6 separate regions of the Homo sapiens genome follow, and all the other regions are linked to region 2. The links come from fine-mapping of genetic effects on gene expression. A gene starts in region 2. Each other region holds a variant in brackets. All regions are shown on one strand. Distances are between the middles of the regions.

What was found. PIP is the estimated chance that this variant, and not a neighbour inherited with it, causes the effect.
Region 1: its variant is fine-mapped to the expression of ABAT in whole blood (TOPMed, PIP above 0.99).
Region 3: its variant is fine-mapped to the expression of ABAT in whole blood (INTERVAL, PIP above 0.99).
Region 4: its variant is fine-mapped to the expression of ABAT in whole blood (TOPMed, PIP 0.93).
Region 5: its variant is fine-mapped to the expression of ABAT in whole blood (TOPMed, PIP above 0.99).
Region 6: its variant is fine-mapped to the expression of ABAT in whole blood (TOPMed, PIP above 0.99).

The regions. Positions count from the first base shown.
Region 1 is chr16:8,771,257-8,775,344 of GRCh38, reverse strand. It overlaps ABAT (4-aminobutyrate aminotransferase), which reads right to left. Exons shown (of 16, transcript NM_020686.6): 12 at 2,428-2,565; 13 at 288-455. Among named protein-coding and RNA genes, the nearest start is that of TMEM186, 24 kb to the left of the region's middle. The variant C/T (reference allele first, on the strand shown) is at 1,576.
Region 2 is chr16:8,672,242-8,676,329 of GRCh38, reverse strand. It overlaps ABAT (4-aminobutyrate aminotransferase), which reads right to left and starts at 1,713. Exons shown (of 16, transcript NM_020686.6): 1 at 1,619-1,713. RefSeq lists a silencer at 1,661-2,120 and enhancers at 1,715-2,214, 2,215-2,716.
Region 3 is chr16:8,713,366-8,717,453 of GRCh38, reverse strand. All of the region lies in intron 1 of ABAT (4-aminobutyrate aminotransferase), which reads right to left. Among named protein-coding and RNA genes, the nearest start is that of ABAT, 41 kb to the right of the region's middle. The variant A/TA (reference allele first, on the strand shown) is at 1,821.
Region 4 is chr16:8,697,490-8,701,577 of GRCh38, reverse strand. All of the region lies in intron 1 of ABAT (4-aminobutyrate aminotransferase), which reads right to left. Among named protein-coding and RNA genes, the nearest start is that of ABAT, 25 kb to the right of the region's middle. The variant C/G (reference allele first, on the strand shown) is at 2,145.
Region 5 is chr16:8,728,255-8,732,334 of GRCh38, reverse strand. The region is part of intron 1 of ABAT (4-aminobutyrate aminotransferase); the gene reads right to left. Among named protein-coding and RNA genes, the nearest start is that of ABAT, 56 kb to the right of the region's middle. RefSeq lists an enhancer at 1-281. The variant G/A (reference allele first, on the strand shown) is at 2,385.
Region 6 is chr16:8,629,615-8,633,702 of GRCh38, reverse strand. All of the region lies in intron 3 of METTL22 (methyltransferase 22, Kin17 lysine), which reads right to left. Among named protein-coding and RNA genes, the nearest start is that of METTL22, 10 kb to the right of the region's middle. The variant C/T (reference allele first, on the strand shown) is at 1,749.

The DNA.
Region 1 (4,088 bases), 99 kb before region 2:
ACATAGCAAATGCTCAGTCTGCTGCGGCAGCTGTCGATGATATTATTGTGTGTGCACACAGAGAGAAAACAGGAAAAGGCTGATGGTGGACTGTTCCAGAGTTGGCCTTACAGAGAGAGCTGGGAGGGCACACCACTGCTAATTGCATTGATAAGAACTGGGACTTAGAAAACCTGCGACCCAGTAAGTGCCCACCCAGCTCCTCGATGGTGAGAAAGGAACAGTTAGGAGAAGAGGATGCTCCCTTCTCTGCCCTGGATGTAGAGAGAAGGTTGGCTCCAACTCACAGCATTAGGCCTGAACTCCTCCTTGTGGAAGAAGCCCCCAGTCATCATCTTCTTGCTGAAGGTCATCACGTCTGCTGGGTCATCCAGGCCCCAGTGCTCATGGGCCCAGAACTTGCCCGTGCAGCCTCCTCCGGTCTGGACCTCGTCCACCAAGAAGGCGCAGCCATGCTGGCCGGAGAAGAGAGAGGAGGGAGAAATAAACACCCGTGGGAGGCCAGAAATTCATGCCCTCCATAGCCAGCTAACTGCCAAACCCTGGGTCCACACACATCGTGCTTGTTTTCTGAAGAGCAAACCAGCCCCATGTTCTTGAGCTGTGCACAAAAAAAACTAATCAAAACACTTAAGCTGAGCAGTTCCAACCAGAGCTGAATCTGAGTGTTTCCTAAAACTGCTAAGCTGGACCAAAAAAACCCAGAACATTAAATACTCCCTGCACCAACACAGAGCGGTATGTCATCTGGCTTCAGTCTCGGGTCTCGACCTCGTCAGAGGGAGCTGTGTCCAACAGTGAGGCCTCGAATGTGCTTCTCAAACTTCAGCTGCCATGTTCTGCTTGTCACCAAGGCTATTTCTAACTCAGCATCTGTGTTAAGTCAACTCACGTCTTATAACTTTTATCTGTGAACTTATCGGTTTGATTGCCAGTTATATATGCACAAGACATTAAAACAAACACACAATATAAAGAAAGCAAATCAGTGTGTCAAAGAGATACCTGCACTCCCATGTTTATTGCAGCACTGTTCACAATAGCCGAGATACAGAATCAATCTGTCCATCGATGGATGAATGGATAAAGTAAATATGGTACATATACACACTCGGCAAGGCGCGGTGGCTCTCACCTGTAATTCCAGCACTTTGGGAGGCTGAGGCGGGCAAATCACCCAAGGCCAGGAGTCTGAGCCAATCAGCCTGGCCAACATGGCGAAACCCCGTCTCTACTGAAAATACAAAAATTAGCTGGGCATGGTGTCGTGCACCTGTAATCTCAGCTACTTGGGAGACTGAGGCAGGAGAATCACTTGGACCCAGGAGGCAGAGGTTACAGTGAGCCAAGATCGTGCCACTGCACTCCAGCCTGGGCAACAGAGTGAGACTGTCTCAAAAAAAAAGAAAAAGAAAATATGGTACATATACACAAAGAAATACTATTCAGCCATAAAAAGAATGAAATTATGTCATTAGCAATGACGTGGATGGAACTACAGGACATTATGTTAAGTGACATAAGCCACACATACACAAATATTGCATGTTCTCACTCAGGTGGGAACTAAAAACA[C/T]TTCCCTTATGAAGAAATAGAGTCGAATGACGCCTATCAGAGGCTGGCAAGGCTAATGGGGAGGTGGAGATAAATAGGGGTTGGTTAATGGATACAAAAGTACAGTTAGATAGAAGAATAAGATCTAGTGTCCAGTAGCACAATAGGGTGATTTTAGTTAATAATTTATTGCATAGTTCAAAATAGGAGTGGATTTGGAATATTCCCAATACAAAGAGATGATAAATATTTTAGGTGATGGATATCCAATTACCCAGATTTGATCATTACGCACTGCAACTATTATGTATCCAAAAAGGTTTTTTAAAAAGATTTTAAGGCCAAGTGTGGTGGCTCAGGCCTGTAATCCCAGCACTTTGGGAGGCTGAGGTGTGCAGATCACCTGAGGTCAGGAGTTCAAGACCAGCCTGGCCAACATGGCGAAATCTCGTCTCTGTTAGAAATACAAAAATTAGTTGGGTATGGTGACGTGTGCCTGTAGTCCCAGCTACTCGGGAGGCTGAGGTAGGAGAATCACTTGAACCTGGGAGGTAGGGGTTGCAGTGAGCTGAGATTGCACCACTGCACTCCAGCCTGGGTAACAGAGTGAGACTCTGTCTCAAAAAAAAAAATATATATATATGTGTGTGTGTGTGTGTGTGTGTGTGTGTGTGTGTGTGTGTGTATAGTTTTAGGGAAGAATCCCCATTCTTTCACCAACCCCAACTTCTCCACCCCTGATGCTGACAGACAGCCTCTGCAAGTCTGGAGATTGACAGAAGCTCCAAGGCAGAGGTGCTGCTGGCCCGTTACTCGGGGAACTCAACCCAGAAAACCCAATGGCTCCATCCAACCTCGGCCCTGTCCACTGACCTTCCTGGCGATGTCTCTCAGCTTCCGAAAGAAGTCATCGGATGCGTGGTTGTCTCCACCCTCGGACTGGATGGGCTCCACGATGATCCCGGCCACCGTCTTCTTCTTTTTCCGATATTTCACAATCAGATCCTCCACCTGGATCCCAAAGGGGAAAGTGACCACCGATGGCAGAGGCTTGTGACCAGTATCCGTGGGTGGGAATCTGGGGTTCGATGAGCCCCATGCAATTTTATTGGAAATGTGTTTGTGTGCATTTCCTAAGACCAGTGAAGCCTCTGTTAGAAGCTATGTGTGTGGATGGGAATGTATCCTACTTGAAATCGGTGCTAGCACCTGGGTGGATACAAACTAATAAATTGGGGCAAGTAATTTAGCTTCAGAAGCCTCACTTTCCTGATGTGTTGTATGGGCACACTGACAGAATCCACCTTCCAGGGTCGTGGAGAGGACTGAATGAGAAAATATAGCACTATGAGTTGATTGCTGGGCCAGATGTTTTAGCTGTGGTTCTGCCTCTGTTTTACATGGAACATGCACCTGTCACTTAACCTTGTTATGTGGGAAATAGCTACATCACGGGTATATTGAGAGAAATAAAGGTGAGAGCATTCACACACACACACACACACACACACACACACACACACACACACACACACACAGAGACAGAGAGAAAATACAGCAGAGTCTGGCACACATAAAGTGGTGGCTGCTACTATTACGATTAGCACGACTATATTATTATTGATTATTATTGTTCCTATTCTTACAGTATTATTGCTATGATTGGTGTGAGAATCCTTTTGGGGCAGAATCGGAGATATATCCTCGGTTAAAAAACTGTTCTAAGGGCCAGGTGTGGTGGCTCACACCTGCAATCCCAGCACTTTGGGTGGCTGAGGCAGGAGGATACCTTGAGGCCAGGAGTTTGAGACCAGCCTGTGCAACATAGCGCGGTTCATGTCTGCAAAACATTTAGAAATTAGCTGGGCATGGTGGCTGCGTGCCTGTAGTCTCAGCTACTTGAGAGGCTGAGGTGGGAGGACCCCTTGAACCAGGACTGTGAGATCGCAGTGAGCTATGACCACACCACTGCACTCCAGCCTGTGCAACACAGCAAGATCCTGTCTTTGTTAAAAAGAAAGAGGCTGGGCATGGTGGCTCACACCTGTAATCCTAGCACTTTGGGAGGCTAAGGCGAGCAGATCACCTGAGGTCAGGAGTTCCAGACCAGCCTGGCTACCATGGTGAAACCCCATCTCTACTAAAAATACAAAAATTAGTTGGGCATGGTGGCTCACGCCTGTACTCCCAGCTACTCCAGTGGCTGAGGCACGAGAATCGCTTGAACCCAGGAGGTAGAAGTTGCAATGAGCCGAGATATCGTGCCACTGCACCCCAGCCTGGGCAAGAGAGTGAAACTCTGTCTCAAAAAAAAAAAAAAAAGAAAGAAAAACCCTAAACCGTACACCTAGATAGACTAACAAGTGAAAGCTTTCTTTATTATGTACAATTAAGAAAAAGCCTCTGTTTGGGTGATATGATTTTGACCTTGGTCTCCACCAGTCACCCCAAGGAAGCTCTGAGATACTTTTCTTGGTTTTCTTTTTTTTTTTTTTGAGATGGAGTTTTACTCTTGTTGCCCAGGCTGGAGTGCA
Region 2 (4,088 bases):
AGGCTGGGTGACCTTGAGCAAGTCTCTTCCCCTTTTGTGCCTCTGTGTGTTTAACTGTCAAATGAAGGGGCCACGTCTTTAATGCAGAAGCCCTTTTAGGTCTTAGGACTCCAGACTGGACCATTTACCTCTCCCCGTGGCTAACCTCTTTGGGCCTCGAGAAAACACATTTCTCTATGACTCCACGCCGCAACACAGGCTCCAAAGAGCAAGACACAACTCACTGCCTCCCTCTCTCCTGCCTCCCAACCTGACCCACCAGAGAAGAGCTCTTCCCACCCCCTCCCCACCCCCAGGTCACCAACATCCTGTCCCTTAGTCTAGCTTCATCAAAGCAGCAAAGCCAACACTGTCTCCTCCCCAGTGGATGGGCCCAGCAGCACCCATTTCTCTTGGCTGAGTGCCCAGGGAATTCCACCAGGCAATGTCCACAGGCGCTTGCGGGGGTGCACACTTTAGGGGGGAAATGCGGGCCCTCTTGGAAGAGGGCCAGCTGTCCTCCCAGACTGCAAGAGAGAATGCATTGAACACAGCCTTTGTGCGTGTGTTGGGGCAGGGAGCGGGGGAGAGGTGGCGGGTGGTCTCTGCTGGTCCTGCTGCCTCAGAGGCCATCTCTGTTGTCAGAGTTTGAAGACTCCTGGAAGGGCCTCTAGGCCCCAGATCCCAGTTTTAAGAGCTCCAGTCTTACTAAATCTCGCTGAACCCCCTCTAGTCTTACCTTGGCCAGGGTGGGTGAGGAAAGGTGAGAGGATGTGAAATAGGTGGGGCAGCCAGGTGTGGGAGTGGAGTTGGGGTGAGGTGGAGAAGGATGGGATTGGGAGCGGTGGGAGGATGGTGCAGGGGGTTACTAGGATGGGGTTTGTGTGAAAGGGCTTGGGTGGAGTGGAGGGAGGTGGATGACTTGGAGGGGTGGCCAGACCTTTGCCCTGCTCCTGAGTATGAAGGTCCCTCATTTTACATCTTTACTGGGGAGGAGAGGGGAAATCCCCAAAAGCCTTTAATGTGGTGGTGTCAGAGGCCACCCTGCCTCTCTGACGGGTAGGGAGGGGTCTCCGGCAGGGCTAAGGGTGAATCATCTATCTCTCCAGAGCCCAGTATCTGGGGTGGGAGGGTGACTTGCAGAGTCTCTGCTCCGGGATTTCCTTGTCTTATGATGGGGGGAGAGCTTCCATTTGTCATGGAGGGGGAGGTCACTGTAATTTATAAGCTGAGAAGACCCCCATTATTCCGAAAGAGAGGGGAGAAGGAAGACACCCAAACTTAGTTTTCTAAGGATGGGGAAGGGGCATCAGTCTCCCAAGAGGTGAGGGGGCTCTAGAGACCTGGAGACCACTTTTTGGGGCCGCATTCTATTTCAAGCGGTAAAAGGGAGAGGACTTCTGTCTAGAGCTGGAGCCAGGAGGAAGGGCCCATTTCTGAAGGAGAAAGGAAGGTATTTTGCTCTCTGGGGGGTGGGAGCCCCTGTCTTTTCGGGGGAGGGCCCCGCGTCTTGGGAAGATGAGGGCTCCGTTTCCAGGAGAAGATGCCCAGGTTTTGCTCCTGGGGGCAGGGCAGAAGGACCTCCTCTCGGCTCCCCTCGGAAGGGCCCGTCCCAAGCCACCCGGCGCCTCGCGCTCACCTCCAGGCCCCGTCTCCGATCTGCGGGATCCGATCCGCCGGGTTCCGACTTGCGGGATGCGCGCCCCGAGTTCCGGCAGCGCTGGGTGTCTGCTCGACTTCCCCCAGCGACTCGCCGGACTCCCTGGCTCCGCCGAGCGTCCCGGCCAATCAGCGCCGCCAGCCCCGGCCCTCGCTTTCGCCACAGCCAATGGGTGCGCCCGCCACGGGCCACCGCCCCCAGGAGGGAGGTGGCAGGCGGGGCGGGGGCAGAGTCCAGCCTCCGGGGGCGGGGGAGACGGGGGCTGGGGCGGGACCCACCAGAGGGACCGCGAGGGCTGGGAGGGAGTCCTGGGACTGGGGAGGAGACGGCTGAGGACCCCCGTCAAGTTGTGGGGACCCTGACCCTCTGGGGGGCAGCTCCATAGGTTGATTTAACCTGGATCTTAATGGGCCATTTACACCCTCAGGGCTGCAGGCGAGTGTAACTCCACCTCCACCCGCGTCTCGGATCCGGTCTCTGGAGCTCCAGAGTCGGAATCAGAAGGGGTTCCTTTGCGGAGAAGGGAAGGAGCATCCCGCCCTCCCCACCTCACTCCCCATCTCGGCGCTCAGGGCCCTGCCAGCCCTTCTTGCTCCCAGCTACTTTCCTCCGCCTGGCCCCAGCGCTCCGGAAGACAAACAGGGCGCTGGGAGTCAGAGGTGGTTCCTTCTGCATGACCTGGAGCAGGTCACTGCGCCTCCTGATCCTCAATTTCCTGAAATTGGGACAACAGAGATTGTACCTCCTTCGTGGGTATAAACGAGACCCTAGATATGATGAAGGTGCCTTTCTACCGTTGTATAAAATGCTGTGTGGAAGATAATTAATACTCAGGTGTGACGGATGGATAGCCCCCCCACAGCTTTCTAGAGGTATTTGGAAAGAGGATGCAATCTTTCAGTGACAAAATCAAAGACACAAAGAACTGCTCATCAAGACAACAGGCGATCACCAAGTCCTCATAATGAATGAATGGATGGATGGAGAGTACAGACCTTAAAGGCAGAGAAAGAGTTCAGCTTGGTTCTCCCCACTCACCCTGATCACTGATAACTTGGTCTGTGGAGTCTTGTAGAACCCTGAGGTCTCTCCTCCTGCTGTCCAGGAATCCAGGCTGCCCTATCTCTGATTACACAAGCGCTATAGTCCTTGCAATTAAAGAATTAAGATAAAGTAAACACATAGATAAATAGAAAGCTGCCAAACAAATCATTCACCTCCTAGTGTCACCTCTGGGGACCCTCCCCCCCAACACACACACACACACACACACACACACACACACACACACACAGAGCAGTAAATAAGAATAATTGAGGCCTGGCACAGTGGCTTACGCCTGTAATTCCAGCACTTTGGGAGGCCGAGGCAGGCAGATCACTTGATGCCCAGAGCTCGAGACCAGCCTGGCCATCATGGGGAAACCCCCTTTCTATTAAAAATACAAAAATTAGCCTGGCATGGTGGCACCTGCCTGTAATCCCAGCTACCTGGGAGGCTGAGACATGAGAATCGCTTGAATGGAGAGGCAGTGGTTGCACTGAGGTGAGATGGCACCACTGCACTCTAGCCTGGGTGATTGTCACCTTGCTTGAGGAACTTGATGAGGCCTGTGCTGAAAATCTAGCAATTTTTTCTTAAAACCAAAGCCATGAACATAATCCCCTTTACTACCCTTGACCTGCCCAAAGAAATACAACGGCCAATAAACATGGGAGATGACACTTTGAAAAGGAAAGGCAAGTTAAAACCAAAAGAGGGAAAGAGTTTACCTACCAAAATGACCTTGTTTTTATTATTATAATTACTATTCTTTGCAAAGACTTCAAGGAGTTTCATGTATTGATGATGGCAGTAGAAAGATCACAGCCTTTCTGGAGGGAAATTGGGTATTTCTATTTTAAAAATCTTAAAAGTAAGTTGACCCTTTGATCTAGCAATCCAATCCCTATGAACTTATCTGAAAACATTTAAAGGTACAAAGATTTAATGATAAAGTAGCTTACTACCATTTTGTTTATCACAGGGAAAAACTGGGAACAACTTGAATGCACAACAGCAGGGACTCAGAGGGAAATTGTTGCATGAAATTGAACAATAAACATAGGTATGAAATATTGAATGGGGCTGGGTGTGGTGACACGCCTGTAATTCCAGCACTTTGGGAAGCCAAGGCAAGAGGATCGCTTGAGCCAAGGAGTTCAAGACCAGCCTGGGTAACATAGTGAAACCCTGTCTCTACAAAAAATACAAAAATTATCCGGGCGATGTGGCGCATGCATGTAGTCCCAGCTACTCAGGAGACTGAGGCAGCCTTGAGCCTGGGAGGTTGAGGCTGCTGTGGGCCAAGATTACACCACTGTACTCCAGCTGGGTGACAGAGTGAGACCCTGTCTCAAAAACAAAACAAAACAAATCTCAAAATGTTAAGTTATTTGCAAAAACAGTA
Region 3 (4,088 bases), 41 kb before region 2:
GCTTTCAATGCAAACCACATAGGTAATTTTACATTTTCTGGTAGCCATATGAAAAAAGCAAAAACAGCTGAAACCAATTTTTTTCATGTATCTTATTTAACCCATTGTATCTAAAATGTAATAATTTTGATACATAATCAATATAGTTATTATTATTACTTTTGAGATGGAGTTTTGCTCTTGTTGCCCAGGCTGAAGTGCAGTGGCACAATCTCGGCTCACTGCAACCTTCGCCTCCCAGGTTCAAGCGATTCTCCTGCCTCAGCCTCCCGAGTAGCTGGGATGACAGGTGTGTGCCATCACTCCTGGCTAATTTTTGTATTTTTAGTAGAGACAAAGTTTCACCATGTTGGTCAGGCTGGTCTCAAACTCCTGACCTCAAGTGATCCACCCGCCTTGGCCTCCCAAAGTGCTGGGATTACAGACGCGAGCTACCGTGCCCGGCCATCAATATAGTTATTAATAAGATATTTTGCATTTCTTTTTCGGATGTGTGCTAAGTCTTCAAAATCTGGTGTGAATTTCACACTCACAGCACATCACAGTTTAGAATAGCCACGTCTCAGATGCTCAATGACCAGATGTGATGAACGGCTACTGTACTGGCCTGTGCGGGCTGACGCATTGCATCAGAATTGGAGTGTGGTCACAGGAACATACAATCTGACCTGCTGAAATGCCACGGCCTGCCTGGGCCTGTCTGCTGCAATGACGTAGGCACAAGTAGTTTAGTCTAGGAGAGGCTCTCAACGGGATCCAATAAAAAGGGAGAGCAGACAGGGCTGGCTACATGATGTGTGGGACCCAGTGCATAAAATAAATATTCGAGGCCCCTTGTGAGAAAATGGTTACGAATTGCAAGTCAGTGACATGGGGGGATCTTCTGAACACGGGACCCTGTGTGACCATATAGATCACAAACCCATGAAGCACGCCCTGGGTACAGAAGAAAAAACACCCTTCAGGTTTCCCCATCACTGGCCAAGGTGAGGGTGCTGGGATCACGACTGCAGCAACAAATACAATTAGCAGCAGCAACAGCAGACACTTGCTCAGCGCTTACTTTAGGCCAAACCCTGTTCTAAGTTCTTTATATATCATAATACCCATCAGAACAACCTTCTGATATTATAATTATCCACTCGTAGCAAAAAAAAGAAAAAAGGAAACAGATCACAGAGAGGTTAAGTGATTTGCCCGACATCACACAGCCATGTAGTATCTTTAGTACTAAATTTCACAAAACAGGGGGTGGGGGCATAATGTGGCCTGGGCTTACAACTAGCTGTGCCTCTGTTTTCTCCACTGGAAAATGGGTGTGATAGAGCTCTCCCATCCCCAAGCTGCTCTGAGGATGAAATGAGATAATCCACGCGCAAAGCTAAGCAGAGTGCCCAGCCTGGGCACTGGAAAATCTTCAGACCCACATAAAAGTTATGAACATAGTTCCACAGCCGCTTGTAATCCTCGAAACTGTTAACATTTTGCCACACTCGTGCCCACTCTATTATCTGTCTTCTGAATTATTTGAGTTAGTTGTGGACATTGTGATATTTCATCCTTGAATCCTTCAGCCTGTATCTTCTAAGAACAAGAATGTTCTCTTACATAACCTCAGTACAAATGATCTGAGATACAAAGTCACTCTCATGAAGGTACCATTAATAAAATACTATTATCTTTTTTTAATTTATTTATTATTGGCATATTCATGACATAAAAATACTATAAATACTATTATCTAACATACAATCTATATTCAGATATTCCCACTTATCCCTAAAACTTCTTTAATTGTTTTTTTTTTTTTTTTTTTTTTT[A/TA]GAGACAGGGTCTCGCTCTATCACCTAGGCTGGAGTGCAGTGGCATGATCATGGCTCATGGCTCACTGCAGCCTCGAACTCTTGGGCTCAGGTGATCCTCTTGCCTCAGCCTCCTGAGTAGCTGGGATCACAGGCACACACCACTATGTCTGGTTAGTTTATTTTTATATTTATTTTTTGTAGAGATGGGGTCTCCCTATATTCCTGAGGCTAGTCTCTAACTCTTGACTTCAAGTGATCCTCCTCCCTCGGACTCCCAAAGCACTGGGATTACAGGTATGAGCCACTGAGCCCAGCCCACAAGTGTTTTCTGTTCCCCTGATCCAGGCTTCATCCTAGGATCAAACATTGCATTTGGGCTCATGGCTCTTTAATCTCTTTTAACCTGGAACCATTTCTCAGCCCTTTTGCCTTTTAAAAGACATTGGCGTTTTAGGAATCCCAGCCAGTCATTTTGCATGTAGTTGCGTGAATAGTCTTCTTTATGTCCTTGCAAAATGAAGTGCAGCTCACGGGCAAATGTGGAGAAAGAGGTCGGTTGGACATGTGATGTCAGAGGGTCCAAGTGATTTCTGCAGGTAGAGGAGGGCGTATAGTGTTAGCTGTTCTTGGGTGGAAGTTAAAGATTTCCGGGAAGCAGTGACGGGATGTTTAACGATAATTAGAGCTTGGCAGGTAGACAAGGGCAGTCGTGGCAGACAGAGGCCAGGGTAGGGGAAGGGGGATGGCAGCCCGGAGGAAATGCAGGCAGCAGCAATGTGTCTGAGGGTGAGCGTATCGCGTGTGATCGGGTCTGTTCCTATTTGAACTGGAAACTCCCTGAGGCCAGTCCTTGTCTCCGGCTCTGTCCTCTCCGCCAGGGTGCCCAGTGCCTACTCCAGAGTCAGGGTTCACTTAGAGCAACCGGCTGCCAAGTTTCCCAAATACCCAGGGACATGCAAAGCACAGAGGACCCCCTTCCTCCGGCAGCGGCCTGGCTGCCAGCTTGCACACACCAACTGCAGGATCTTCAGCGCCAACCTTTCAGGATTCCCACATCTTGCCCTGCAAATGAAATTGCATTTTCTAAAATTGCTTTCTTCTGGTTGCCTCTTGGGGCATAGGCTGCTTCTGGGAAAAAATTCAAAATGAACTTCTAATCAGCCACAAGATGTGAAGAGAGCGGCTGTCCAGAGCTTCCTGACATCTACTCTTGGCGTGAGCCGCCCTGGCTGTCAACTGAGATTCTCACTGCAAACTCTATCTGAAATGCCCAGTGACAGCGCCCCCTGAGCCTTCCATTCCCCTGAGTTTCAAAGAGAAAGGGGTGTGTGTGTTTGTGCTGTTCTTGTCCTTAGAACGAAGGGAAAGGATTTATTTAGCGGCTTGAACAAAAATGCCTTTTCAAGGTGACCCTCACTTCATTTCCTAGGACCAGATGCAGGCGGACTGTGGTGTTGCAAGCCTATTGATAAGAGCAATTCCTTATCTCATCATTTCTATATCCATCTTTCATTATTTTGTCCCCACTTTAAAGGGTCTCCTCCTGCTGTGTTCACAAAGTGTCCTTGAAAAATCTGTTAAGTACATTTGTGTGTCCTACACACAGAGAGCCAGGCACATGTGCACGCATGTACACAGATGCACAAGGGTGTGTGCCCCCCCGACCTGCACACCCCAACACCACAGATAACAGGCACTGACAGACACTGGCACCACCTCCCCATGGCAGCAAATACATACACATGTAAGGATGCACACAGAGACACACATACACATTTGCACTCACGGTGCCTGGTAGTCGGAGTCCTGCGGCGAGCTCAGCTCGCTTGCTTAAAATGCCTTCTGTATGCCATTCTGCAGAGGCCAGGAACGCAGCTGGCTGGGTTCATCCTAAGAGGTGCCGTTGGGCACCAGCTCCCTCCTCAGGAGGGTGTCCCGGATTTCCAGGCAGTCCCCAAAACATGGGGACAGGTGGAGGAGACAGAAAAGGGCCCCTTGGAAGCAGAGCAGGTTTGGGAAAAGGATGCACTCAGCTGGTACCCGGCAAGTGCGCAAGGGAGAGGGACGGAGGGAAGGTGAAGGAGGAGGGGAAAGACAGAATGTGAGAGACTGAAAGATGGATTCAGAAAGACAAGGGTTTTCAGACAGAAACAGGATGCAACTACACAGAAACAAAGATTAACAGAGGCAGAAGGAGAGCGATAAACAGAGAGAAAAAAATAGAATACAGATTTTTTTTAAAAGATGTTTTAAGCCCAGCTTGGTTTAAGCCAGAAGGATAAGACA
Region 4 (4,088 bases), 25 kb before region 2:
GGAAAAACTGAGGCACAGCAAAGTGAAGTCACCTGCTCAGTCACATCGGATAGTGAAGAGCAGAGGTGGGGTCCAACCCATCGGGGACTGTTCCAGAGCTTGTGGCCTCTGGCCAGGCAGGTCTCACCCTCTCCTTCTAAGGGCAGGGCCTGGCCAATAGTGCATGCTTAGTAAGGGTGAGTGCTTCTCTTCCCAGTGTTCACGTTATTCACTCCAGATTTGATTACAGCTCACTACCACGTTATTCACTGCAGATTTGATTACAGCTCACTACTATATGCTCCTGTGGCACAGAACATGTTTCCTTCACAGTCCATACTGCTGTTGTTAAAGAATTAAGGTCAAGACTGGTATTGTGGCTCACGCCTACAATCCAAGCACTTTGGGAGGCCCAGGTAGATCACTTTAGTTCAGGAGTTTGAGAGCAGCCTGGCCAACAGGGTGAAACCCCGTCTCTACTAAAAATACAAAAATTAGCCAGGTGTGGTGGTGTGTGCCTGTAGTCCCAGCTACTTGGGAGGCTGAGGCAAGATAATTGCTTGAATCCGGGTAGCAGAGGTTACAGTGAGCCAAGATTGCAGCACTGCACTGCAGCCTGAGTGACAGACAGAGTGACACTCCATCTCAAAGAGAAAAAACAAAACAAAGCAAAAAAAAAAAAAAAAAGAATTAAGGCCAGCATGGCGGCTCATGCCTGTAATGCCAGCACTTTGGGAGGCTGAGGCAGGATGACTGCTTGAGCCAGGGAGCTCAAGACCAGCCTGAGCAACATAGTGAGACTCTGTCTCTAAATTTAAAAAAAAAATGTTTTAAAATGCGCCAGGTGTAGTGGTGCACACCTGTAGTCCCAACAACTTGGGAAGCTGAGTGGGAAGACTGCTTGATCCCAGGAGTTCAAGGCTGCAGGGGAGCTATGATCAAGCCACAGCACTCCAGCCTGGGTGACAGCAAGTCAATGTCTCTTTAAAAAAGGGATTAATTGTGGGATTTCACAAACAGTGCAGAGGGAGACGCCTGACATCAAGGAGTATCTACGGTATGATTCCGTTTATAAAGTTCTAAAATAGGCTCAGCTAATCTATGGTGAAGATGTTAAATAGCAGTTACCCACTGGGGTATGAGGGAACTTTCTGGGGGCTGGGGACGGTCTAGATCTTGATCTAGGTGCTGGTTACATGGTTGCATTCTCAGGTAAAAATTCATGGAGCCGCGTATGTAAGTTTAGTGCACTTTGCTATGTTAAGTTATTCATCAACTTACAGATAAAAGGAGGAAGAGAATATCAGGAAAGTCCAGCCCCCTTTCCCCAAAATTAATTTTGCAATTTTAGTTAATGGCTCTTCTCCAAGTAACCACAAGCTGTGAGAGGGCAAAAACCACACCTGCAATACTCATGTCTGTATCCTACACCCAGCACAGTGTGCGTTCAGGACAAGCATCAAGAACTACTCACTGCAGGCTGGGCATGGTGGCTCACACCTGTAATCCCAGCACTTTGGGAGGCAGAGGTGGGTGGATCACTTGAGCCTAGGAGTTTAAGACCAGCCTGGGCAACATCGTATAACTCAGTCTCTACAAAAATTACAAAAAAAAATACAAAAATTAGCCAGGTGGCACACGCCTATAGTCACAGCTACTTGGAAGGCTGAGGTGGGAGAATCACCTGAGCCCAAGAGGTCGAGGTTGCAGTCAGCCGTGATCGTGCCACTGCACTCCAGCCTGGGTTCTGTCTCAAAAGAAAGAAAGAGGGAAAGAGAAAGAGAGAGAAGAGAAGAGAAGAGGAAATATTCACTGCACCAGCCTGGGCAACATGGCAAAACCCTGCCTCTACAAAAATTACCAAAAAATATCAGCCAGGTGTGGTGGTGCACACCTGTAGTCCCAGCTACTCAGGAGGATGGGGTTGGAGGATCGTTTAAGCCCAGGAGGCCAAGGTTGCAGTGAGCCGAGATCACACCACTGCACTCCAGCCTGGGTGACAGAGTGAGGTCCTGTTTTATTTTATTTTATTATTGTTTTTGAGACGGAGTCTCAGTCAGTCACCCAGGCTGGATTGCAATGGCACGACCTCGGCTCACTGCAACCTCTGATTCCCAGGTTCAAGTGATTCTCCTGACTCAACCTCCTAAGTAGCTGGAATTGCA[C/G]GTACCTGCTATCATGCCTGGCTAATTTTTGTAGAGATAGGGTTTCACCATGTTGCCCAGGCTGGTCTTGAACTCCTGACCTTAGGTGATCCGAGGCCCTTTAAAAAAAATAATTCCCTGCAAAAATAAATAAATGAAGTAATCACTACTCAAGTGGCCATTTGTACATTCCAAAGATGGCCGCAACAGCATCTCCCCTCCCCAATCTCTTCCCTCTGTGACCTAGTAGTCCCTCACTGGGAGGTGGCATCTATCTCTTCCCACATTTGATCTGGGGCGGTTCTGTAACTACTTCAACCAAAACTATGTGGCACAGAGTGGAAAACAGGCGGTTCCTCAAAAAGTTAGACACAGAATCACCATATGACCCAGCAATTCCACCCCTAGGTACATACCCCAAAGACTGAGAGCAAGGACTGAAACAGATACTTATCTGCTGCTGTTCGTTGCAGCACTACTTATTTTTTGTTTGTTTGTTTTTTCTTTTTGAGACAGAGTTTCTCCCTATTGCCCAGGCTGGAGTGCAGTGGCGCAATCTTGGCTCACTTCAACCTCCACCTCCTTGGTTCAAGTGATTCTTGTGCCTCAGCCTCTCGAGTAGCTGGGATTACAGGTGTGTGCCACCAAGCCTGGTTAATTTTTGTATTTTTTTTGTAGAGATGGGTTTCATCATGGTAGCCAGGCTGGTCTTGAACTCCTGACCTCACGTGATCTGCCCACCTTGGCCTCCCAAAGTGCTGGGATTACAGGCATAAGCCACCGTGCCCTGCCAATTGCAGCACTATTCATAAAAGCCAGAAGGCCGGGCGCAGTGGCTCACGCCTGTAATCCCAACACTTCAGGAGGCTGAGGCAGGTGGATCACCTGAGGTCAGGAGTTCGAGACCAGCCTGGACAACATGGTGAAACCCCATCTCTACTAAACATACAAGAATTAGCTGGGTGTGGCGGCAGGTGCCTGTAATCCCAGCTACTTGGGAGGCTGAGGCAGGAGAATCACTTGAACCCAGGAGGCGGAGGTTGTGGTGAGCTGAGATCGTGCCATTGCACTCTAGCCTGGGGGACAAAAGTGGAACTCCGTCTCAAAGAAAAAAAAAAAAGAGCCAGAAGGGGGAAACAAACCCAAGGGTCCATGAGCATATGAGCAGATAAACAAAATGTGATCTCTCCACACAACAGAACAGAGCAATTGCTGAAGGAGGGCCATGTACTCAGTTATTCTCAACCACTCCTCCGGCAGCAGGCAAAGTTGGAACCCTAGAGCCATCAGAGAGAGTACAGTCCTACTGATCTCTGGATTTTGGACTTCTGGCCTCTAGAACTGTAAGAGAATAAACTTCCATTGTTTTGAGTCACTCAGTTTGTGACAATTTTTTTGCGGCAGCTCCAGAAAGTGAATGTATGATCTCAATGAATATTTTTACTGATCATGTCAGCTATTACTACTACCACCTCCAATGTACAAAGGATCACCTCCTGCAATTTAAAGCTTGCACAGGGTCAGGTGCGGTGGCTCACGCCTGTGATCCCAGCACTTTGGGAGGCTGACGCAGGTGGATCACTTGAGGTCAGGAGTTTGCGACCAGCCTGGCCAACATGGTGAAACCCCTTCTCTACTAAAACTACAAAAAATTAGCTGGGCGTGGTCGCTTGTACCTGTAATCCCAGCTACTCAGGAGGCTGAGGCAGGAGAATCTCTTGAACCTGGGAGGTGGAGGTTGCAGTGAGCTGCAATCACACCACTGTACTCCAGCCTGGGTGACAGAGCAAGACCCCATCTCCAAAAAAAAAACCAAAAAACAAAAAACAAACAACAAAAAACCTTTAACTTGCACAGGAGGAAAGGGAGTTTCAAATTCATACATGATTCCAAAGGCTTGGATCTGAACCCAGGCACTGACTGCAATTGCTCATGCCTGGACTGTTCCGGGCATTTCCAGATCAT
Region 5 (4,080 bases), 56 kb before region 2:
TTTGTTCACTTGTTTATCTGCCGACCTTCCCTCCACTATTGTCCTATGACCCTGCCAAATCCCCCTCTGTGAGAAACACCCAAGAATTATCAATAAAAAATAAATAAATTAAAAAAACAAACAAACAAAAAAAAAAAACAAAAAAAACCTAAAGTAGTCAACCTCCTAGAAACAGATAGAGGGTCTGGGCATGGTGACTCATGCCTCTAATCCCAGCACTTTGGGAGGCCGAGATGGGTGGATCACTTGAGGTCAGGTGTTCAAGACCAGCCTGGCCAACATAGTGAAACCCCGTCTCTACCAAACATAAAAAATTACCCGGGCGTGGTTGTGAGCTCCTGTAATCCCAGCTACTTGGGAGGCTGAGGCAGGAGAATCACTTCAACTCGGGAGGCAGAGGTTACAGTGAGCTGAGATCGCACCACTGCACTCCAGCCTGGGCGACAGGGCGAGACTCTGTTTCAAGGAGGAAAAAAAGAGAAACAGAAAAAGAGGAAAAAGAGGTTGCCGAGGGCTGGGGGAAGGGAAAAAAGGACATTGTTTAGTGTGTTTGGAGTTTCAGTTTGCAGGATGAAGTAGTTCTGGAGCTTCACTATACAACAAAAGTGCTTATAATACCGTACTGTATACTTGAAAATGGTGAAGATGGTAAATTTTATGTTATCTGTGTGATTTTTAAAATAACAATTAAAAAAAAAAAAAGAAAAGTGATCCAGGAAAGACATTGGTGTTGAGGTTGACATACCTATCAAGGACAACTAGACAACTACCACGGCTTCCAGTGCTTTGACAAAACTCAGGTGTGTGGCCTTCTGGTCCAGAGTCTGCCATTTCACATTGTTGGAGCAGTCATTGTATCCCTGAGAGTTGCAGCTCTCTATAAGTTTGCTGTGGCTGAACCAAGAAACAAGGCATATGTAGAAGCGATGAGGATGGCTGTTATTGTTCAGAGTGCAAAGTGATTTTGGAATATAAAGAATTTCTTTGGGTTGAGTTACCTAGAAGTTTATCACTGACCTGTGTTCCTGAACTATGAAACATGAATATGGGGGCTAAGAAATAGTTTCTCTTTGGGCTGGCAGGGTGGCTCACTCCTGTAATCCCGGAATTTTGGGAGGCCAAGGCAGGTGGATCACTTGAGGTCAGGAGTTCGAGATCAGCATGGCCAACACAGTAAAACCCTGTCTCTACTAAAAATACAAAAATTAGCTGGGTGTGGTGGTGCACGCCTGTAATCCCAGCTACTCAGGAGTCTGAGGCACAAGAATCGCTTGAACCTGGGAGGCGGAGATGGCAGTGAGCCAAGATCACACCACCGCACTCCAGTCTGGGTGATAGAGTGAGACACCGTCTCACACACAAAAAATTAGAAATAGTTTCTCTTGATAAATAAACAATTAATGAGTACTTTGGACAGTAAACAAAGTAAAACTATTTTTTTTAAAAGAAGCCATGTGGTTTACCCAGGACACAGCAAGTTGCTGGTGGAGCCAGCGTTGGGGTTGAGAGATATCTGGCTCAGGAGTCCTGGCTTGTGCCTAATGCATGGATTTATTGCGAGTTGCAACACCTGAAACTTACTCTGTGACAGACCCTGGGGACGCAGCCCTTTCCTCATGCAGCCCTGGCTTGGGCTGCCTAACTCTACCCAGCCCCACAGTGGACAGAAATTCCATCCTAGACCTGGATGAAGACCAAGAGGCTTCTCCCACCCCCTGCTTCTGTGATGACAGCATATAGGAAGTGCCAACCAGAGGTGATAAATACAGACCTAGAGAGATCCCACAGCTGGAGGGGAGGCCTGTATCCAAGGAGAGAGAACAGGGCAAGGAGGAATGACAGGCGGGTTCAGAGTACAGGTTCAGGTGCTGGGAAACACGTGGGCTCAGCAGCACAGGGCAGGAATAGTGTGGAGAATCAGGCACCGAGCCCAGGATGGCGAGTTCCAGCACGCTGTGGCTGCCCACAGAGCTAATAGAATGTTGGCTGTATTATTAGAAGGAAAGAGTGAATGAAGGAGGGAGGCGGTTGCCATTGATGCATTTGTGCTACGAACATTCATGGTACACCTACCGTGTGCCAGACCCTTCACTGGGCACTAGGGCACATAAAGATCAATTAGAGGCCGTCCTTACCCTCTAAGCATCATCAAGTACTGGGCACTTGCTATGTGCAGGCTCTCAGCTGGTGCTGTAGAACCATCTCGTTTCATCCCCAGAGCCCTAGGAGGCAGCTCCTAGAAGACAGAGACAGGTCATTATCCTGTCTTCAGGCAACTGAGGTACTATCACGGGTGGGGTGGGGTTGGTGCAGGAAGTATCTTCTGGGGTGTCTGCTCTGCACTTCCTTCCTCCCCCTTCTCAGATACTTCCCCATTCCTCTGC[G/A]GGGGCATAGACCTGGCCCTACTGGCCATGGTTGACTAGACAGGGCTGGGCCAGAGTCCTGACACTCTCTACCCACTGAGATGATCCAGCATTCAAACAGGGTCTTTTTTTTTTTTTTTTTTAAGACAAAAAAGGGCTAGACAAAAGAAAGACTAGAGAGCAGTGGCGTGATCATTGCTCACTGCAGCCTTGAACTCCTGGGCTCAAGAGATCCTCCCACCTTAGCCCTGCCAAGTAGCTGGGACTACAGGCATGCACCACCATACCCAGCTAATTTTTAAATATATATATTTTTTAGAGACAGGGGTCTCGCTGTGTTGCCCAGGCTGGTCTCAAACTCCTGTGCTCAAATGATCCTCCCATCTTGGCTCCTGAAGTGCTGGGATTATAGGCATGAGGCATGGTGCCTGGTCTTTGTGAGACATTCTGAAGGGTACATTACTCCCTTCTCTTTGCTCAAACATCTATAGGAGTAGGGTAATCTCCCTGTTCAGAGATGATAAAAGGGAGGCTCAGAGAGGTTATGACATTCGGCCTCAGTCATAGGCTTACCTGAGACTGTCTGACCCCAAAGCCCCTGCCTCTATGCATTGTAACATCAGTTAATCCAGCTAATAACAAAACTCCTAGCTGTTTTTGTTTTTGTTGAGACAGGGTCTGGCTCTGTCACTCAGGCTGGAGAGCAGTGGTGTAATCTTAGCTTACTGCAACCTCTGCCTCCCCCAGGGTCAGGCCATCCTGCCACCTCCCAAGTACCTGGAACTACAGGCGAACGCCGCCACGCCCAGCTAATTTTTTTTTTTTTCAGTAGAGCCAGGTTTTTCTCACGTTGTGAAGGATGGTCTTGAACTCCTGAGCTCAAGTAATCTGCCTGCCTTGGCCTCCCAACGTGCTGAGATTACAGGCGTGAGCCACCGTGCCCGGCCCCTAGCTATTGTTGATATGAGGCTTCATGAATAAAAATGACGTAGTTCACAGAATAAATTTTATTGCTTTTCACCAGAGGAAACTTTCTGAGAAAGTGTGGGCTTGGAAAGTGTGGCCATGAATTAACTGAGAAACCAAACTCTTTGTTTTTGAGATGGAGTCTTGTTCTGTTGCCAGGCTGGAGTACAGTGGCGTGATCTCGGCTCACTGCAACCTCTGACTCCCTGGTTCAAGCGATTCTCCTGCCTCAGCCTCCCGAGTAGCTGGGATTATAGGCATGTGCCACCACACCTGGCTAATTTGTGTATTTTTAGTAGAAATGAGGTTTTACCATGTTGGCCAGAAGGTTCTCAATCTCCTGACCTTGTGATCCACCCGCCTCTGCCTCCCAAAGTGCTGGAATTACAGGTGTGAGCCACTGTGCATGGCCCAAACTCTTTTCTTAATAACTCAATGGATTTTTTTTTTCTATTCCAGGATATCCGACTCAATGCAAGCCTATTAATTTAGCAACAGAGTAACTGTGTAGAAAGTGCAGTTCATGTCTTTCCCTTAAAACCACTTGTCTGAAACAGGGAGCACTGAGGCGTCACACAATTCAATTTCCATTAAACACGTTTTTGAAACTCCGAATGTCTCAGAGAACTCAACATTTGAATATTCTGCAAAAGTGAGAGCCAATCCCACACGTTTTCAATTACAAAATGTCACATTGGAAAATATACCGTGGTGACATTTTGGTGGCCTGCAGTTGAAAATTGACCTTATA
Region 6 (4,088 bases), 43 kb after region 2:
CTGGGTGAGGTTAGCAGGCTGTGGTCACAGAGAGGGTGAGTGGCAGATGCGGGGTTCCAAGTCAGGTCATCTGCAGTTTTCTGTCTCTTTCTGTTTTGAGACAGGGTCTCACTCTGTCATCTACGCTGGAGTGTGGTGGCACGGCCAAGGCTCACTGCAGCCTCCACCTCCCAGGCTCAAGTGACCCTGCCACCTAAGCCTCTCGAGTAGCTGGGGCTACAGGTGCATGCCTCCATGCCAGGCTAAATTTTTTTAGTTTTGTAGTTTTTGTAGAGATAGGGTCTCAGCATGTTGCCAGGGCTGGTTTCAAACCCTTGGGCTCAAGTGATACACTGCTTTGGCCTCCCAAAGTGGGATCATAGGTGTGAGCCACCGTGCCCGGCCTTTTCTAGCTCTTCAGCCTGCTTGGGGAAGGGAGATGTAGAATCTGAACCATGCCAGGGACACGGTTTAAAAAGCCTGGGGCAGAGCCTCCCAGGATGAAAGGGACAGGGACTCGCTGGGCAGGCTGAAGGCTTGTGTGCTTGTGCGTGGAGGGGAAGGGGTGTCTGTGGTCTACAGACCCCAGGCCCTCTGTGTCAGCGTCCCTGCCCAGTTCCTCTTCCCCAGTCCCACCCATGCCATCTCCTGGGTGTGGCTCGTAGCCTCCTCTCCTCTCCTCTCCCTCCATTGGCCTGGGAAAGCTTCCTCCTTGCCATCTGCTCCCTAACCCCAGCTGTCCTAAGGGTTCCTGCTGCCAGGGGAACCTTCTCATAGTGATCTTGGTCCTATGTGATTGGTCACTTCCTTCCAGGGGTCTCGTGGACGTAAGTTCTGCCTCCCAGCTGTCCTCAATGGGTGGCTAGCTTCCCTTGAGGGAGAATGAGGACTCTGAGGTCAGAGACCTGTATGACAACCCAGTTTTGTCATTTCCTAGCTGGGTGACAAGTCACTTAACTTCTTGGAGACAGAGCTACAGTTTCCTCTTTTGCAAAATGCAGAAGTAGCCTCATCCCTCATTTCTAAGGCTGTAACAGTGTTTAACCAGACAGCGCTTCTGAGAGAGCACAGGCTCGGCAGACATCTGAGAACCATTGAGGTGGTCAAGGACCCCAGCCCTTGCACAGGTGGAGATCACTGAAGCCCAGAAGGGGGACATGACCAGCCCAGGGTCATAGTCTGAGAAAAAAACATCTAATTAGATCAAAATGTGTCGAGATGGCCGGGTAGTGGCTCACACCTATAATCCCAGCACTTTGGAAGGCTAAAGCAGGAGGATCGCCTGAAGCCAGGAGTTTGAGACCAGCCTGGGTAACGAAGTGCAAAGTGAGACCCATATTTTTCTAAAGCCAAATAGAAACAAAAGAGGATTTAAAATGAAGTCATTTGGGAGTCTGACCAAGAACTGATCTAAGATGTGCTTTCTGCTGATGCTGATAACACGAGAAAACACCAGGGCGAATTGATAAGGGAGAGAACAAGAGGCTCAGGGATGGATCAAAGGAAGAAGCGGATGCTGTGCAACTCCCTGGGGCCAGATGGAAAAAGCCAGAATGAATTCCCCAGGAAGCTGAGTGTGGCCGACCTTAAGGGCACTCTCCTTTCTTGTGTCTGACATCCTCGACTCCGGAGTGCAGAGATTCCGAGGTCTACCCGACCCCTGCCCCGTTTCAGGCACTTGCTAGTGTTCGAATGGGTAAATATGCTTCTTCATGACTCATCAGGATAGTCAGAGATCACAACAAATGCCCAGTATGTCAGCCCTGGGC[C/T]GGGCGCGGTCCAGGTGGCTGCATAGGGGTGAGGAAGAAGGATTCAGTCTAGGGGTGGAGGCCCAGGTGACTTAGGGACCTCCCTACCCAGGGCCATCTTGGGGCTCCCACTCCTGTGAAAAGTCAGAGTTTATATTTAAATAATCCCAAAGGTATCATGAGAACATAAAAGACCAGCCTGAGGAACTATCCCCATGAGAAACTCTAGGGCTAGCAATGGGATGAGACAGTGTTAGAATCTCACCTGTCCTTATCAGATTCTAGAATTACGTCTTATCTCATTTGCAAACTGGGTCTCTAGACCTGCAGGAACCTAGACTGTTCGTCAGCCAGTCTCCCTCCTCCCAGCTTGGGCCAGTCCCCAGGACAGAGGCTTACATTTACGGAACACTGAATCCGTGCCAGGCATTACGCTAAGAGCTTTGTATGTGCTGTCTCTCTGAATTCCTTACAACTGGAGGAGGTTGTACCCCTTGTACAGACAAGGAAACTGAACTCAGAGAGGCTAAGCGACTTGCCCGATTCTCCAGCAGGAAGGCACGGGACTCAGAATCTGACGGCCTGAGTTCCAGCCCTGCCTTTCTCGAGTTCTCTTGGGGTCTCACTTTATTTCTACAGTGGGGGAATTGAACATAATTTCTTTTGAATCCTGGGTCTGTGGATTCCTGGCAGATCCCTGGATAAACTTTTTAAGGTTTTGTCAATCCCTTGGAATAGTTAAGAAAACACCTATTTTTCTTTTTCTTTAGAAAAACCAGTTTCTCAAATGGGTCTATAACTTGAAAAAAATGGGTTGATTTACGGGTCAGAGGAAAAGGGTTGTGAGGCGAATGACGTCTGCTTACCATCAACTCTGCGCCAGGCCCTGCTCCTGGCGCTCACTGGGCATGTTTCAATAAATTATCACTAAAACCCAGGGACAGTGGTTCCCCTGATCACGTGGTTCTGACCATGTGGTTCTGAGTGGGTAAGACATTTGTCTCTGGTCACCTGGCTTGTGAAGATGGAGCTGGGCTCAAAATCCAGCCCTGCAGGATTAGATCAAGTTTTGCAGATGAAAGTGCTCTAGCCAGTTTGAAATAATCACGAATTACTACCTAGGTTCATGCATTAGCTACCATTCCACTCTCCTCCGTCAGGGCAGGTAGTGAGTGACTGACAGCTGAAAAAGTGAACTTCCAGGTATACAGACAAGGGGGCCTCACCGTGAGGTCACCGGAACAGGGCAGGAGGGGAAGCTGGTCACAGGCCAGCCTCTTCCCGAGGGACTTTGTTCTTAGCTCATACAATGGTAAATTCCCAGAACATTCACTACAGACACAACAATTCACTGTGGAGTAACTGACAGGTTTGCTCCCCAGCTTGGGGAGGCTAATAACAGTGAGGGCTCAGAGGGAAATGAGCCATCGTCGGCCCCCCTGAGAAGCAGGACTTTCCAAGCCTCTTTCGAAAGCTCTGCCCCCATGATGTGGAATGACAGCACAGGCTGTGGCGTCAGACAGACCTAGGTACAAGTCTCAGCTCTGCCACTGACTAGCTGTGTGACCCCAGCAAGTTCCTCAACCTCGCTGAGCCTCAGTCTCTTCCTCTGTGAAATGGGAATACTCATCCCTATCTGCAGAGGCCATGAGGGCAGAGGTCACCCATGGGATACATGGAACTGGGTTCTGGTATGAGTTCCACGTTGCCCTCTCTGGGACAGTCTAGAACAGAGGCTGCTTGGTACCACCGTGGAGGCGCTTAGTAACTGTTTGCTGAGCAGATAGATACAGAGCTGCTGTTTTGTCTGTTTTTGAGAGTGACCCACTGACCCCCATTCTCTGACCAAAGGCCAGTGCTGGGGGAGGCCTTTCCCTGGGAACTCAAGACACCATCGGGGACCCTGGATCTCAATGAACGGCCTCAAATCACAGCTCCGCTCCCCAAATGAGCAGCGCCAGGGGGAGGCAAAGCCCTGGTGTGGACACTGTGTGGATTCGAAGCTCGCTCACCACCACCAAGCAGCATGGCGCTAGGCCTTTCACTTCCTCATCCATGCACCCCCTCAGGAGGGGTTGTGCAGACTAGGCCACTCGATACTAGTGAAGATATCCAAAACACGATAGGTGCTTAACCAGGACCGATCACTTCCTGGCCCAGCTCCCTACTGCTCCCGGTGTTTCTAGAGTGCCAGGTCCCTAGATTTCAAATCCTAGAGTCAGCAAACCCCTCTGCTCTGCCCCCATACCTGGGTAGCAGTTCCTCTTTGATCCCACCTCTGAGTATCTGTCCAAACCTCTCTCCTGTCCCACTTTTCCCGCCACTTCATCACTCCCCTTTCTTACCTGGCTTCTAGCTCCC